Regions from separate parts of the Homo sapiens genome. Here region 2 is linked to region 1. The links come from fine-mapping of genetic effects on gene expression. A gene starts in region 1. The other region holds a variant in brackets. All regions are shown on one strand. Distances are from middle to middle. Region 1 holds the start of DLST (dihydrolipoamide S-succinyltransferase). Region 2 overlaps LTBP2 (latent transforming growth factor beta binding protein 2).

Region 1 (8,521 bases):
TGTGCTTTTGGTCCTAGCTACTTGGGAGGCTGAGGTGGGAGGATGAGGATTGCTTGAGTCCAGGAGGCAGAGGTTGCAGTGAGCCGAGATTGCACCACTGTACTCCAGCCTGGGCGATAGAGTGAGACCCCATTACAAAAAAAAAAAAAAAAGGGTGGGCGCAGTGGCTCACGCCTGTAATCCCAGCACTTTGGGAGGCCGAGGTGGGTGGATCACAAGGTCAGGAGATTGAGACCTCCTGGCTAACACGGTGAAACCCCGTCTCTACTAAAAAACACAAAAAATTAGCCGGGCATGGTGGCAGGTGCCTGTAGTCCCAGCTACTTGGGAGGCTGAGGCAGGACACTGGCATGAACCTGGGAGGCAGAGCTTGCAGTGAGCCGAGATCACACCACTGCACTCCAGCCTGGGCAACAGAGCAAGACTCCGTCTCAAAAAAAAAAAAAAAAAAAGAAGTAAGTTACAGAATGATACAGGCACTGTGATTCCATTTCTACTAAGTTAAAAAATAGACCAAAAAAAAATACCCACACAAAAACATGTCTAGATTTTCATTGTGTATTCATCAGTCCATTATTTTGAATTACAACTGAATGAAGAGATAGACAGATAGATGGAATCTAGGTATCATAGGTAACACTGAGTGAATATAGGGCATAGTCCCTATTTTAAGGAGCCCAAAGATGGAAGCATAGGCTATAGCCCCATCTACTAGCTGGCCGATAATATTCATAAACTCATAGGCAAGGATGTGAATGTATGGTTCAGAACACACATAAGAAAACCGGGGGATTTGAGGTAAATGAGCTACTTAATCCTTTCTAAAAACACACCTTTTTTCTTATTTAATTTGAAAGTAAATACATCTTTCATTTTCATTTTTTATTTTTTTCTATATCAGACCACTGCTGGAGACATCTTTTTCTTAATTTAAAAACACAGGCAAAAATGTGTATAGAACATAAGCATATTGAAGCTATAATGAAAACAAGGGGATGGTTAATATATAATTCAGTATAGTAGTGGCTAACTGGGTGTGATGATGGAGGAGACCACAGGGAACTTTTCCATTCCTTCAGCTGGGCAGCAAGTATGGGAATTCCTTTTATTATTTTTCTTTTAAACTGGACACATAGATTTTTATATCCTTTTTAATACGTATTTTACAATGAAAATGTTTTTAAAAATTATCTTTTGGGCCGGGTACAGTGGATCACGCCTGTAAGCCCAACACTTTGGGAGGCCAAGGTGGAGGGGTCACTACGTCAAGAGATCGAGACCATCCTGGCCGACATGGTGAAACCCTGTCTCTATTAAAAATACAGAAATTAGCCGGGCATGGTGGTGGGCGCCTGTAGTCCCAGCTACTCATGAGGCTGAGGCAGGAGAATCGCTTGAACCCAGGAGGCAGAGGTTGCAGTGAGCCAAGATCATGCCACTGCACTCCAGCCTGGCAACAGAGTGAGATTCCACTCAAAAAAAAAAAAAAAATTCTCTTTTGAGCCCTGCCACAATTTATATTCATAAACTCTTGCCCCAGTAGATGGTGCTGTGTCTTGGGAAGCTCTAAATGAAGGAGTGCCCTAGCTTATTGGGTTGCAGCTTGGAGTCCATGGAAGCTCGTATGTGAATCTCGAGGAAATCAATTTCAACTTTTACCCTCTCAATGGGATTTTGTATGAAACCATGCTCGAGTGTGTGTGTGTGTGTGTGTGTGTGTGTGTGTGTGGTGTCTTTAGACTGTAATATCTAAGATTAACTTGGGTGATCACTAAAACTCCAGAAGTGCTTTGCCACATTATAACCAGGCTTGAAGTCTTGAAGCCTCTACATCTTTTTTTTTTTGAGACGGAGTCTAGCTCTGTCACCCAGGCTGGAGTGCAGTGACATGATCTCAGCTCACTGCAAGCTCTACCTCCCGGGTTCACGCCATTCTCCTGCCTCAGCCTCCCTAGTAGCTGGGACTACAGGCACCCGCCACCAGGCCCGGCTAATTTTTTGTATTTTTAGTAGAGACGGGGTTTCACCGTGTTAACCAGGATGGTCTTGATCTCTTGACCTCGTGATCCGCCTGCCTCAGCCTCCTAAAATGCTGGGATTACAGGCGTGAGCCACCGTGCCCAGCCTGAAGCCTCTACACCTTCTATAAGAATCTCAAAAATTGTTAAAGACTGTGAAAGCCTGTAATCCCAGCACTTTGGGAGGCCAAGGCAGGCGGATCATGAGGTCAAGATTTTGAGACCATCCTGGCCAACACCCTGTCTCTACTAAAAATACAGTGACACCCTGTCTGACACCCCGTCTCTACTAAAAATACAGAAATTAGCTGGGCATGGTGGCACGCACCTGCAGTCCCAGCTACTCGGGAGGCTGGGGCAGGAGAATCACTTGAACCCGAGTGGCAGAGGTTGCAGTGAGCCAAGATGAGATCATGCCACTGCACTCCAGCCTGGGCAGCTGAGCAAGACTCTATCTCAAAAAAAAAAAAAAAAAAAAAAAAAAAAAAAGACCGTGAAAGGACTGGGTAGCTATCTAAGAAAAATATTAACAGCAACACTGGCAAGAAATTGCCATAGCCCCTGACTACCGTTCTTGGATTCTTCAGCTGTGTCCACCAATGTTGTAAACATGGAAGTATTTAGTCATTCCACAAATATTTATTGAGTACCTACAGAGTCCCAGGAACTCTGATGTCCCAGGTGTTGTGTTTGGAAAATTCAGGAAAATAGAGAGTGGTCTCTTTCCACCTGCTGCTCTATGCAGCATGGGAGACAGACAGGTAAACAGGACATTACAATAAAATGCAATGTAGAAACCCAGACACAGTGCTTTGGAAGCATAGAAAATGTATCTGTTAACTCTGCCAGAGGGGTTAGGAAGGGATTAAGAAGGAGATTTAAAGGATGACTAGGAGTTCCTAGGCAAATAGGAGGAGGAAACAGCCCATGCAAATAGCTCAGCAAGGCTATGGCCAGTAGTGTGGTTTGACTAAAGCTCACAATCTGTGAGAATGTGGGGAGAGAATCAGAACATAATCAGAGGCCTGATTATCAGGTGCCTGGCCAAGTTGAGGAGTTTGTACTTTATCCTACAAGGGAGATAAACTTTATCTCCCTTGCTTTATCCGACCAGGAGAAGCAATGAAAGACTTTAATCAGAGGAGTGACAGGATTAGGTTTGCATTTCAGAAGGATTTCTTTTTTTTCTTTACTTTCTTTTTTTTTTTTTTTTTGAGACGAAGTCTCACTCTGTTGCTCAGGCTGGAGTGCAGTGGTGCAATCTTGGCTCACTGCAACCTCCATCTCCTGGGTTCAAGCAATTCTCTTGCCTCAGCCTCCCGAGTAGCTGGGATTACAGGCATTCACTACCACACCCAGCTAATTTCTGTATTTTTAGTAGAGATGGGGTTTCACCATGTTGGCCAGGCTGGTCTTGAACTCCTGATCTCAAGTGATCCACCCACCTCATCCTCCCAAAGTGATGGGATTACAGGCGTGAGCTACCACACCAGGCTCAGAAGGATCTTTGACACAGATATAAAGGATGATGGGCTAGAGAAAGCGAGAGCGGAGGCTTAGAACTGCTTAGGGAGCTTTTCAAATAATTCAGGTGAAAGCTACTGAGGAGTTAATTGTGGGTAGCAGCAGGGCAGAGCTGTTTTCTCTATTTCTAGTTAGGACTTTGGCCCATCCTTCCAGAATTTCAGTGGCAGTGCTTTCAGGGTTCAGGTGAGTGAAGGCACTGTAAAGGTCCTGATGGAATTTGAGGCCAGCCTGGGCAACATAGTGAGACCCCGTCTCAATTTATATTAAAACATAAATTAATTAGAAAAATAAAAAATAAAGGTCCTGAGGGCCAGGCAAAATGCCTCAGATAAAGAAATCATCATGAACGGCACCAAGTGGTTCATTCATTCATTCATACATTTATGTGTTACTAATTCAGCCAGAGGTTTAAAGCACATCTTTTTCATTAGGAAGGTGAGCCTTAAAGGTGAATACTCAAGGGGCCTGAATACTTAAGGAGGGGAAGGGGATGCTATATGCTTTCACTTCAAGTCAGCGGGAAGAATGGCACACTCAAAGTGGGGAGGTCAGCCTGGCATGGTGGCACCTGTAGTCCCAGCTACTCCAGAGGCTGAGGCAGAGGGATCGCTTGAGCCCAGAGTGTCGAGGCTCCAGTGAACTATGACCTTGTTTCTTAAAAAAACAGCTGGGAGTTTATATTCTAGGGATAGGGTGACAAACGAACAACTTCCAAAATGCACAAGATGTATGGGGAACAATTAGTTTGGCTGGAATTTGCGTTGGGGGGAGATCAGAAGCTGTTGAGAAATAAGGCTATAGTTGGTGAAGATATCCGACTCGTAAAAAGGCAATGGGATTTAGAAATTCCTGGGATTCTGTTTCTTTGACTCGGGGTTAGGAAGACAGGGAAGTAACAAGTGCCTTTTTTTTTTTTTTTAATAGTTAAGGGACCTGAGACTGGGGGTGGGGGGCAATGTCATCTGCCCCAGGCCACACAAGTGTAAGATCAGGCATGCATGTCTGCCAAGGTTTCAGTTCAATGTCCGTGCCCCTCTTTTGCTCTCTTCCCAAGGTACAGAGGCGGAACGGCGCGGTGCCCTCGGGTCCCAAGAGAGAAGGGCGCCAAGCTCAGAGCCAGTTCTGTGGAAGGGTAGGGGAAGGCCTGACCCCGGGGGCAATGTGGTGGCGGGACAGTCGTATACACCTTCAGGAGAACCACCTCAGGCTGACAGGCAGTGCGGAGGGCCCCAAGAGCGCCTTAGGGTTGCCTGCTCCAGAGAGCGGGACTCCTGCGCTGCAGCCGGGATACTGGGCGCCGCCGTGCGCCCACCCCCTGCCAGTGGTTCGCTCCGAACACCCCTCGTCGGGCGGCGGGTACTGCGGCCCGCCCCACTTCCGGTTGTTGTCCGGCCCTATATCCGGTGTCCGCCCGCCCTCGGCTCCTCCGCCGTGATGCTGTCCCGATCCCGCTGTGTGTCTCGGGCGTTCAGCCGCTCGCTCTCCGCCTTCCAGAAGGTACGGTCTGGCCGAGCCGGGGCCCCGACGGGTGAGGAGTCTGTTGGCGGGCAGAGAGGCGGCCTGGAAGGCAGGGGCGCGGCGCGCCGGCCGGGCCGGGCACCAAGGGCACTGGGACGCGGAGGCCGCGCGGGCTGGGCGGCCCGGGGCCGTGGTTGCCCTCGGGACCGTTTTGCGGAGCCCAGCGGCCCCCTGCCTTCTCCAGGCAGCCTGCGGGGAACGTTTCCTGCTGTACCCCACCCTCCGCGCGGGAGCTGGGGAGCCGCGCCCGTCCAGATACTTGACTCAGAGTTAGGGAGGAGGCGCGGCGGAGTCCTCCGGCGGGATTCGGCGCCCGTCTCGTCTTGCTCTGTTAAAATCAGTGGGTATTAATGAGTCCCGTTGGGAAGTTGAGATAGTTTGGCAGGCCCAGCGTGTTGATTGGGTCTGCCAGCACGGTGTGTTGCATTTACCTTCGGAGTTACGAGATTCACCTGTCACCACCACTGGGACAGCTTTGAGCGTGTACTTAAAAGAAAAAGCTGGGTTTTTTTTTCATCTTGGGTGACGTCGATAATGTCTTCTTTCTCAACAGGGGAACTGCCCTCTAGGGAGACGTTCCCTGCCTGGTAAGTTCTGCCCTTACCGTCACCTAAAATGCTCTCCTCCTGGGCAGAGCAGTATGTGAGGAACTCGGGGGTGCCTGTGTTTCTCATAATATTTAAAGACAGTTTGGTTCAGAGAGTAGTGAGACGCAATGCTACATAATCACGAGCTATCGCTTATTCATTTAGCTCGTAGTTGAGTTTCTACTGTGTTAGGCACTGTGCTAGACGCTAGGGATACAGGAGTGGATACAGAAGTGTACAGTTCTTGCCCTCGTGGAGCTCCTAGGCTAGTTGGATAGTGTCAGTTGCTAAACAAGCCAACAAAGGCAAATTTTTGTAACTGCTGAGAAGGAAACGAGGGTGGACAGAAGAGCCCTTTTTGAGGAGGTGACTTAAAAGTTATGGCCATGGCCGGGCGCGGTGGCTGACGCCTGTAATCCCAGCACTCTGGGAGGCTGAGGCGGGCGGATCACGAGGTCAGGAGATCGAGACCATCCTGGTTAACACGGTGAAACCCCATCTCTACTAAAAAATACAAAAAATTAGCCGGGCGTGGTGGCAGGCGCCTGTAGTCCCAGCTCCTCGGGAGGCTGAGGCACGAGAATGGCGTGAAGCCGGGAGGCGGAGCTTGCAGTGAGCCGAGTTCGCGCCACTGCACTCCAGCCTGGGCGACAGAGCGAGACTCCATCTCAAAAAAAAAAAAAAAAAAAAGTTATGGCTAGCAGAATGTGACGGAGCTAACCCAGTGAAGCCCAGGAGAAAGAGAATGGCATTCACAAAGACCCTGAGGAAGAAAAGAGGTTGGCAGAACTTAAGAGCTGGAAAAAAGGTGATTTGGCCGGAGTATTTTGGTTAAGGGAGAGAGTGGCAAGAGATAGAAGATGGTATAGAGACTGAAGGAGTTTAGATTTTATCCTAGCAGTTAAAAAGAAAAAAGTGTCATCCATAGCTTTTTTTCTGTTATATGCCTAGCCTAAGTATTTGTTGAATGAGTTGACCTTGTTGTGGGCTTTCTTTGTGCCAAGCATTTATATGAGTGCTTTCTGTGAATTTTTTAGTTAATCATCTCAAAACAGTAAAAAGTATTTTCTCTATTTTACAAATGCATAACCCAAGACAAGAGAGCTTAAAAGCCTTGGCCATGGTCACCCACCCAGCTGTTGATAAGCCAGGTCTACCTGACCCATCCTGAACTCTTAACCCACCATGTTCTCATTTACTCATGGACTCAACAGATCATTTATTGAGTGCTTACTATATGCCAGCCACTGTTCTAGGTAACAGGGGTATAGATAGACTCTAGCCTCGAGATTTTATGGGCTAGCTGGAGAGAGAGAGCAAATATACATTTATGCTCCGACAAGGGCATAAATTTTGGTTACTACGAGAGAGGAATTAAAGGGTGTGATGAGAGGGTGGGATGATGTAGACCAGCTTGGGAAGGTTGGGAATGTCAGTAAAGGCTTCCCTGAAGAAGTGACATTTAACTGAGACCTGAATATAAAAGAGCCAAGAAAATGTATTCCAGGCAAAGGGAATTGCTTGTGCAAAGGTTTTCAGACAGGAAAGGACTTGACCAGTGATAGACATGGGAAGAAGCCTGTCTGGCAGGAAAGATAGAGTGGGCTGGACGGTACAGGATCGCGTAAAGTGTGGACTTTATCCTGAGAGTTATGAGAACATAAAGCCCCTAGCACAATGTCGGCTTGTAGTGGACTCTCAATAACAAACATGTTTTTCAAGTGGGAACCCTGAACAATGTCAGTAAACATTTTCTCCACTTCATAGGTGGGCAGGACAATGGAAAGAGCCTTGCACTTGGGGATTTGCATTTGGGCTCAGGGATTCACCTTGGGCTAGTCGCTTAACCTCCAAAAGTCCTACTTATATGAAATGGGAATAATGGCAGATGGTCGTTCCACTTCAGAGAGTTGTGAGACTGTAAAATCAAAATGAGGTCATTATGGGAAAGCTTTTTATAAACCCTAAAGCACTGTACAAATGAAATTTGCTGTAGGATGAACTCTGAATTGGACTCCAGGTTCCCAAAATCAGTGTGAGCCGCCATCTATTCTAGTTCAAAAACATACTATGCTTAGAATTTGCACTGCATAGTCATTGGCTGCTGGACATAAAGGTGACTGGCTTACCTATCTTGGGATGCTTGTGAGGAGGTGGGCATAAGAGAGGGCTAGCTCTCATTTGGTGTGTCCTGAGCCCATGGTTCAGAAAGAGTTGTTAATCTGAAAGAAAAAAGACATAAGAAAGAATTCAGAAGAGGCAGCTGTAGTTACTAGTCATCAGTTGGGGAAATGCAGTTAACTATGATAAGGACAGCTGGTGGGCAGAAAGGGTCTCTCACCTTGTTGAGAGTGACCAGGGTGGAAGACTTCAGAAAGGCATGGGAAGTCAATAAACTGAAAGATGGGGACATGATTTTCTCAGCTCTAGGACAAACTGGAGACCCCGAGCCTAAAGTAGCCAAGTCTTTGCTACTAGGATTCAGGTGATAAGATTTCCAACCCAATCTTTTCAAACCCAGACCAAACATCCTCCTTGCTTCTCAAATTGGGTTATGTATAGTCACAGGATAAGCCATCCCATGTCTTTCTCAAGCTTCAGTTGTATTTGAAGACTTGGCGAGTAGAGACATTTTATTATGAAAACATACAGGAATAATGAAAAGTTCTGGCTTTTTAAGGTAGATGAGATTATATAATCACTTTGGGCTGTGCCATCAAATTTTTTCTCTTTCCTCCCCAGCCAAACACATACCCACTCGATCTCACATACCCATTTGCTCTCTGCCACTAAGGCTACTTTGGAAAAGTTTGAGAAGCAGGACTCTATGATAAAGATTATATCCGTTGCCGTTGATCCTGCTCTGTCTCA
Region 2 (8,000 bases), 270 kb before region 1:
CACCCATCAGCACGCCTGGCTAATTTTGTGTTTTTAGAAGAGACAGGGTTTCACCATCTTGACCAGGCTGGTCTCCAACTCTCGACCTCAAGTGATCCACCCACCTTGGCCTCCCAAAGTGCTGGGATTACAGGCATGAGCCACCGCTCCCGGCCCCAGCTAGAGGCATTTTTAAACCTCTTCCCTTCCATTGGATGTTGCCTCCACTTTAAATAGGGGCTGCATCTTCAGGACGCAGACTAGGAAAGACGCTTCTGCTCCAGGTTCTGGAGTACCTAAGCTTGACCTGCCCTGGGAGTAGGGTGGGGAATGGCACTTCACGTTTGATAGAGCGGAGTGTCTGCTACTGGTGGAGGCACTCACGTTTGATACAGTGGTTGGTGCTGTTTGCTGTTGTCCATCCTGGGCAGCACTGTCCCCCGCAGACGTTCCTCCTGTGGGGTCACCAAAACAGAGTCAACACAAGGATGCTCAGAGCTGGGGACTATTCACAGCCCCTCCGACAGTCCCACCTTCTAGAGGCAGGGCCTGGAGGAACATGGAGAGGCTGGGAAGGCTGTCCCTATTCTACTTGCAAATCTAAGATTGAATCCTGACTCTGCCATTCTCTGCACATCCCTGGGAAACCTCACTCTCTCCATCTGTACAATGGAGATAACAATAGCTGCTTAATTGAGTTGTTATGATGGTTAAATGAGGTGAGAATGTTTAACATCTGACATAAAGAAGGCAGTCCACTGGGGCAACAATGACAGTGATCCTAAAGCTAATAAGCCACTTCAGAGAGGTTCAGTGACTTGCCAATTCCACACAGCAGGTAAGTGCCAGAGCCTGATTCAAACCTGGGTTGGCCCAACTCTAAGCCATGCTCCAACTCTACATTGCCTCTCACCAAAAAAAAAAAAAAAAAAAACCACACACACAAAAAAACACCATGGTCGTTGCCCTACCAATGCTGACGATCCAAGGGAGGCTGGAAGACACACATAAAACAGTCTCAAGGTCATACGAGGTGTTACCTGCCAACGAATGCACACTGAGGAGTCTCAGCCCCCGGCAGTCTGGTGCGTGGGAAGGCTGAGCCCTGAGTGGGCACTGAAGGAACAGGGCTCTAGAATCCCTGGTTAAGAGGTGCTTACAAGGTGGCAAGCTGGTAGGAGGATGGGGCTGGGGATGTGGGTTAAGCTGCCTCTGCACAATTTTTATGTGGAGGCACAATTTTTATTTGAGAGGCAAACAGGACTTACTCTATAGCGAAATAGAGTTCTTCCATCAACTACTCCTTTTTTTTTTTTTTTGAGTCTCACTATATCGCCCAGGCTGGAGTGCAATGTCGTGATCTCGGCTCATGGCAACCTCAGTCCTGCCACCATGCCTGGCTAATTTTAAAAATATTCTTAATAGAGATGGGGTTTCACCATGTTGGCCAGGGTGGTCTCAAACTCCTGAGCTTAGGTGATCCACCCACCTCGGCCTCCCAAAGTGCTGGGATTATAGGTGTGAGCCACTGCGCCCAGCCCTTCAGCTACTCCTTGATGTTGGCTCTGAGGGCACCCCCATGAGACGCTGACCTACAGTGCTGGGGCATTCACTCAGCTCCCCAAACTTTGCTTCCGGGTGTCTGGCGCACTCCAGCAGCACCAGCAGTTTCCACCCGGCCCTGACTCTGCAGCTAAAGACCCACATGCCTAGACCAGGGCGTCTCCCTAGAAGGGCTTCTCCTGGAGATCTCTAGGGACTGACTCCTTGGCAGGCTGGGCCGGGCTCTGGCTTCCATCCTTATCATTGGAAATCATCACCGGGCACTGGAACTAGAGGGTAAGAGGGGAGGGAGAAGTGCAGAGGCTGGACAGGCAAAGGACAGAGCAGGGCGGCCACTCCTGTGATCTCTGTGGCCAGCATGGCGACATCTGGTCCCACTTAGGAGTTTGTTTGACATTTGAGTGGACCCCAAAGCTTATGTGGTTTTTGGAGTCTTACGAAGAATTCAAAATAAATTCCTGCAGCTTGAAAAAGCGGAGGCCCATTCCTGGCCCTTTGGCCCAAAGTTGTGGGCACTGCCTCCCTCCCAGGGAGCTCCCAGAATGTCCCACCAGCCAAGAGTTGTGCCACTTGGGCCACCTCAAAGCCTCTCTGGGCGACCACCGTTAGCAGCTTCCTGGCTGCATCAGGGCCCATGTCACGGGGGTCAGGGAAAGGGCTGCTTGTCAGACCCAGAGTTTCCGGGGGTGCGCCCCAGTGGAAGGGGAAACTACGTACCCACTTTTATGTCACCACCCCTTGTGGTGGTGACAAGACCTCTCGTGGGGCTAGGAGGGCTCTGAGAGGAAACAGATTCTGTGCCCTGGGAATTTTCTAAGAATTAGGGCCTGTGGGAACCCAGACAGCACGGACGCAGGAGCCTGCCTGGCTGGGAGGTCATGGCATGGAGCCCAGCCCAAGGAGGCCCCCTGAGCCAGCCGTCACCCCAGCTGCCCTCAGGATGGCTTTGCAGCTGACTGTGGGAGGGCAGGGGCCAACCTTGCTTTGCCTGCACAGAGTAGGCCCTAAGGGATGTAAGGCCACGTGAGGATTGGCCAGAATCAAAGGCTGCCAGGCAGAGAGGCCAGGCTGGGGCTGGTAGGGCACTCAAGAGAGATTCAGGTCCCCAAGGAGAGTCTCTAAGGATCCCTACAGGCCAATATTAAAGTTTTGGGTGCAGGCCCAGGGAGGTAACCAGCTGGGAATTCTGGGAATTGTCAGTTCAGTGGGCTCTGGCTAGCAGAGAGAGCAAATGAGCCTGAACAGCTGGGATATATAATTCAATCACTCTGACTCCCTAGAAGGTACCTCTCAGAGATCATCTGAGTCCAGTCTTCCAGTTGACACCACTCAGCACACATTAGCCCAGTATCCAGCATCACTGTAGGGAACACATCTGGCTAGCAGTCTGGGAGAGCTGCTATTCCACCTGGGCCAAATCTGATCACACTAGCCCTTTGTTAAAAACCTCCCACAGCTCTCCACTGGCCTCTACAAGGCCCCCTGGCACCCATGTGCCTACTTTCCTGTGCAGTCTAATTGTCCCCATCACCCCCACCTTGTCTCCACAACCATCCACAGCCAAGGCTTTGCTCCTCCAAGGATACAAGGTTTGTTGCTCCCCAGTTACCCTATGGATTTCACTTCGATGCCTTTGCCTGGGCTGCTCTCTCTGCCTAGAATGCCTTTCCTCTCTGGTCTACTGATTAAAATCCTTTGCATACTCCAAGACTTCCAGATCAGATATTACCTTCTTTGTATAAAACCTCCCCTGGGCCAGGCAAGGTGGCTCACACCTGTAATCCCAGCACTTTAGGAGTCTGAGGTGGGCAGATCACAAGGTCAGGAAATTGAGACCATCCTGGCCAACACAGTGAAACCCCGTCTCTACTAAAAATTAGCTGGGCATGGTGGTAAGCACCTGTAGTCCCAGCTACTCACTCGGGAGGTTGAGGCAGAAGAATTGCTTGAACCCAGGAGGCGGAGGCTGCAGTGAGCAGAGATTGTGCCACTGCACTACAGTTTGGCGACAGAGCAAGACTCCATCTCAAAAAACAAAACAAA[C/CA]AAAAAAAAAAAACCCACCTCCTCTGACATCTACCCAGCCTTCCCTCATTCTCCATCTGCATCTGCTGTGATCACTTAGTACTGCCTGTCTCAGGTCATTGGTTGTATCTCAGTCTTGGGTATCTAGAGGTTTCTTTCTTATTTCTCCTTGTGCCTCTACAGTCTAACACAGTGCCCAACATGTGGTATACAATTGATACTTGTTTCATTTAATCTGGAGTTTCACAAAAAGTGGGATGAGCCACTGAGGGTAGGAAAGGCATTTTAAGTTTACAGATCACAACATTCAACAATCTGAGTTACATGGTGAGAAAGTGATTCTCTTTTTGGTGATCCTTCTAACCTAATGATGTCAGTGAAAAAGGCCACGTCCTCCCCTCAACACACGCTAGTCCCCCTTCCAATAGAGGGAACTTGCCACAGAGTTGAGCTTCCTAAGACAATGAATGAAGTCTGACTAGAACTTAAGAACATTTTGTTTTCATTTCAATTTTCCTACAGTTATCTTCTCTTTATAACAAGTGGTACTGCTTTCAACTTATGATAATGATACAAAGTTTCCTTTCAGTTATGAATTTATTTATGGAGAAAAATGAGTCAAGCACTGTCTGTAATAGCAAAAAAATTCAGTAGAATTTTTAGAAAATTACTTTTAGAAAAAGTAATTCATCTAAATGTCCAAAAACAGGAGGATGGATAAACTGTGGTAATATTCAGACAAAGGAATAATATACAACAGTTAAAATGAATAAACTTGGGCTAATTATATTAACATGGTTAAATCTCAAAAATCTAATGAGGAGGGGAAAAACAAATTGCAGAAGAATAATGAAATAGGGTCTCACTTATCTAAGTTTAAAATATGCAAAACAACATTGTATATTTTGTGGATACATGTATCTATAGTAATATTGTAAAAACATCTATTGGAATTAATTAAATTCAGGGTAGTGGTTAACTCTGGGGAGGGAAGGAGGCAAATTTATAGAGGAAATTTCAACTAAAAAACTGGAATCAAAATATGTCAAAATATTAAGGTTTGATAAAACTAGACTATGTTTTTTTTTTTTTTTTTGAGACGGAGTCTCGCTCTGTCGCCCAGGCCGGACTGCGGACTGCAGTGGCGCAATCTCGGCTCACTGCAAGCTCCGCTTCCCGGGTTCACGCCATTCTCCTGCCTCAGCCTCCCGAGTAGCTGGGACTACAGGCGCCCGCCACCGCGCCCGGCTAATTTTTTGTATTTTTAGTAGAGACGGGGTTTCACCTTGTTAGCCAGGATGGTCTCGATCTCCTGACCTCATGATCCACCCGCCTCAGCCTCCCAAAGTGCTGGGATTACAGGCATGAGCCACCGCGCCCGGCCAAAACTAGACTATGTTATATTATTTTCAATACCTTTTAGTGCATTTATAAAACTTCATAATATACTTTAAAACAGATAAAACACAAAATCCTGTTATTTTAACAGAATATAAAGTTAAAGAAAAATAATAACAGAACAAGAGGGAAAGGTAGAGAAAAATATTATACAGGTGGTCTGCTGTGAGGCTGGTTCAAAAAACCCTATAGAGGCCAGGCGTGGTGGCTCACACCTGTAATCCCAGCACTTTGGGAGGCCAAGGTGGGTGTAGTGCTTAAGCTCAGGAGTTTGAGACCAGCCTGGCCAACATGGCGAAACCCCATCTCTACTAAAAATACAAAAAATTAGCCGGGTGTGGTGACGTGCGCCCATAATCCCAGTTACTAGGGAGGCTGAGGCACGAGAATTGCTTGAGCCTCGGGGGTGGAGGTTGTAGTGAACCGAAATAATGTCACTCCAGCCTGAGTGACAGGGCAAGAGACTCTATCTCAAAAAAAAGAAAAAAAAAAAAAGAAAAAAAGAAAGAAAGAATAAAGAAAAGAAAAGAAATGAAAAAGAAACCCTGTAGACTGTAAATTTCATTAGCGTAGGGACGGTGTCCACTCTGGTCACTGCTGTATCCCAAATACCTAGCATCAAGCCTGGCACAAACTTAATAAGTCTTTATTATGTGCAATAAATCTTTTCTACATTGAAAGTTCCATGAGGACAGAGTATGCCTGTCTTGGTCACTGCTATATCCTCAAGATCCAGTATAGGGCCTGGGTATAGAAGTTCTTCCAAAATATTTGTCGAATGAATGAAGAAGCTCCAGTAGCAGTGGTGCAGTTCCAAGATTCACCAGGAGGTGGCACTTGGTCCCTGGCTGTCTGCAGCTCACAAGGCAATGAATGGCCAACCTGATCAGCCTGACTAGAAGCCATTAGCCAGAATGGACCAGGGTGGAGGAAGAGAATAAACAAGATGACCCCTCAGGTCCTCCCCAGCTGACATGGAGTGGCTGACTGGAGTGTCAGGGAACCCACTCTTTATCAAAGCTGCAGAAGACAATGTGGGGGAGGAGCCTGACCAGTGTGTCATGTGATGTGTGCACCTGTGTACAGCAGGTGGCACCCAGCCCATGTCTTCACATGCCTGTTCACATCCACCAGCTTTGTTGTAGTGACAATTCGCTTTATTTCATGACTTCTAATAGTGCACCCTCCAGCCCCCACGCTCCACTTCCCCACCTTCCCCCGCACCTCACCTGCACCTAAATGCCTGCAGTACAAGCTCCTCCCTGCTCCAGCCCAAGCTATGTCTCTAGGTTCCCCTACACCAAAGCTGCAGTGCTACCCCTGGGCCAGTGCCAACAGTAAAAAGCCCTTGTCCTTGGGCAGTGCTACATCTGCACACCACCCTCACCTCCAGGCCCCCCTCCTGCCACCTCCCCTCTGCTTCCCCACATGCTGCCCACAGAGCCCCAGGGGCCCCAGGTCACAGGTCCCCTCTACTCAGCTCTTCAGCTACAGTTGCCCCACTCCTTTGCACTTAACAGGAACCTTCCAGTACTAGAAAGCATCTGTTCATTTCTTCAACGTGATATTAAGTAATTGGGTTGCTCTCCCAGCAGGAACAATGCCTTGGACTCTGGGCCTCCATCCCCTTTCCCATGCTCTGCACGCAGGATCCTTGGAAGCATGCATTCACTTGCACAGATCAGGAAAGGAAAACGCTGAAACACAGCAGGTGCTTTCCACTAAGACTTGTTGAATGATCCTATGTGTAAGCGACTTGGCAGTGCATGGGTCTACTCTCTGCCTGCTTGAAGCTGGGCCTTCCATGGGCAGCAGGGAGTTCATCCACTCATTCAACAGATACCTAGAGAATACCAACCAGTGCAGGCACTATTCTAGGCACAAGAGACACAGAAATGGACACAACGAAGTCCCTGTTTGCATAGAGCTTGCATTAGTGTGGGCTGGGAGGCCAGGCCATAAACACATAAATAGGAATAGAACATATCAGATAGAATAAGTACTATGAAGAAACATAAAGCAGGGTGAAAGGAGAAAGAGGATGGGGCACGGGTGGCCAAAAGTCACTCTGAGCAGAAATCTGAAAGAGACAGAGCTCAATCCTGCTGAAATATGAGAAGAGCGCTCCAGCCAAGGAAAACAGAGCGCCAAGGAAAACAGAGCGCCAAGGCTGCGAAGTGCAAGGTCCTTGGAGTAGGACTCGGGGTACAAGTGTCTTTCATGCTGTTCCCCAGGACTAAACCCAACTGGCAAATCGGGCCCAGGCAAAGAGAGGCTGCCAAAGCCCTTCCCAGACTTCCCGATGGTGCCCCCACCCAGCCCCTCACTGCCCAGGGCTCAGTGCCCTCCATTCCAGAGGCACCTGCCATACCCAGGCAAGGCGGAGCGTGCCCGCAGCCATGATGATCCGATTGGGGATGGGGATTACTGGGGCATCTTCTCACTCTGCGACGGCGCCCGCGGTGGGCAGGGGGTGGTGCCCAGGGGGAGCAAAAAAGTAAATTGCAGGGTTGTGCGGTGGCTTAGCCCTGCAACGCGCCCAAGTCACGCTTACACCTAGATGCACAAGAGCACACTGATCCAATTCTCCACGCGCCCACTGTGTCGCAGCCTCATCAGGACACGCTTCCCGCCCAAAGTACCCAGAGCTCACGCCCACGCCCGCATCCAGCCCTCAGCGTGCGCAGGCCGACCCACGCCCCACGACACTTGTCCCGACGCACCAGCTTCGCTGCCGGCTCCCCTCCTGGAGACGCATCTACCTTCTCTCCATGGGGCCCCCGACACCTCCGCCAACCCGCGCTCTGAGCCAGCTCAACCTCCCCTGGGCGTCAAGAGCCTGGAGCGCCCACCCTCCTGCCCTCTCCCCGCTGCCTCTCAGATCCCGGCAGCGCTGCAAGAGTCTACAAGAGCTCGTTAGTTGCAGGCAGGAGGAACGCGGGCGAGTGGAGAGGCGCCTTGCGAAAGGATTTAACGTCGGGGCTCCGGGAGAGTTGGTAAGAAAGGATGAGGATGATGATCTATCTGCCTTCAACTCT

What was found. PIP is the estimated chance that this variant, and not a neighbour inherited with it, causes the effect.
Region 2: its variant is fine-mapped to the expression of DLST in whole blood (INTERVAL, PIP above 0.99).

The regions. Positions count from the first base shown.
Region 1 is chr14:74,876,975-74,885,495 of GRCh38, forward strand. It overlaps DLST (dihydrolipoamide S-succinyltransferase), which reads left to right and starts at 4,942. Exons shown (of 15, transcript NM_001933.5): 1 at 4,942-5,042; 2 at 5,617-5,650. The coding sequence starts at 4,980. RefSeq lists silencers at 4,874-5,100, 4,957-5,286.
Region 2 is chr14:74,603,272-74,611,271 of GRCh38, forward strand. It overlaps LTBP2 (latent transforming growth factor beta binding protein 2), which reads right to left. Exons shown (of 36, transcript NM_000428.3): 2 at 364-434. Among named protein-coding and RNA genes, the nearest start is that of LTBP2, 5.0 kb to the right of the region's middle. The variant C/CA (reference allele first, on the strand shown) is at 3,586.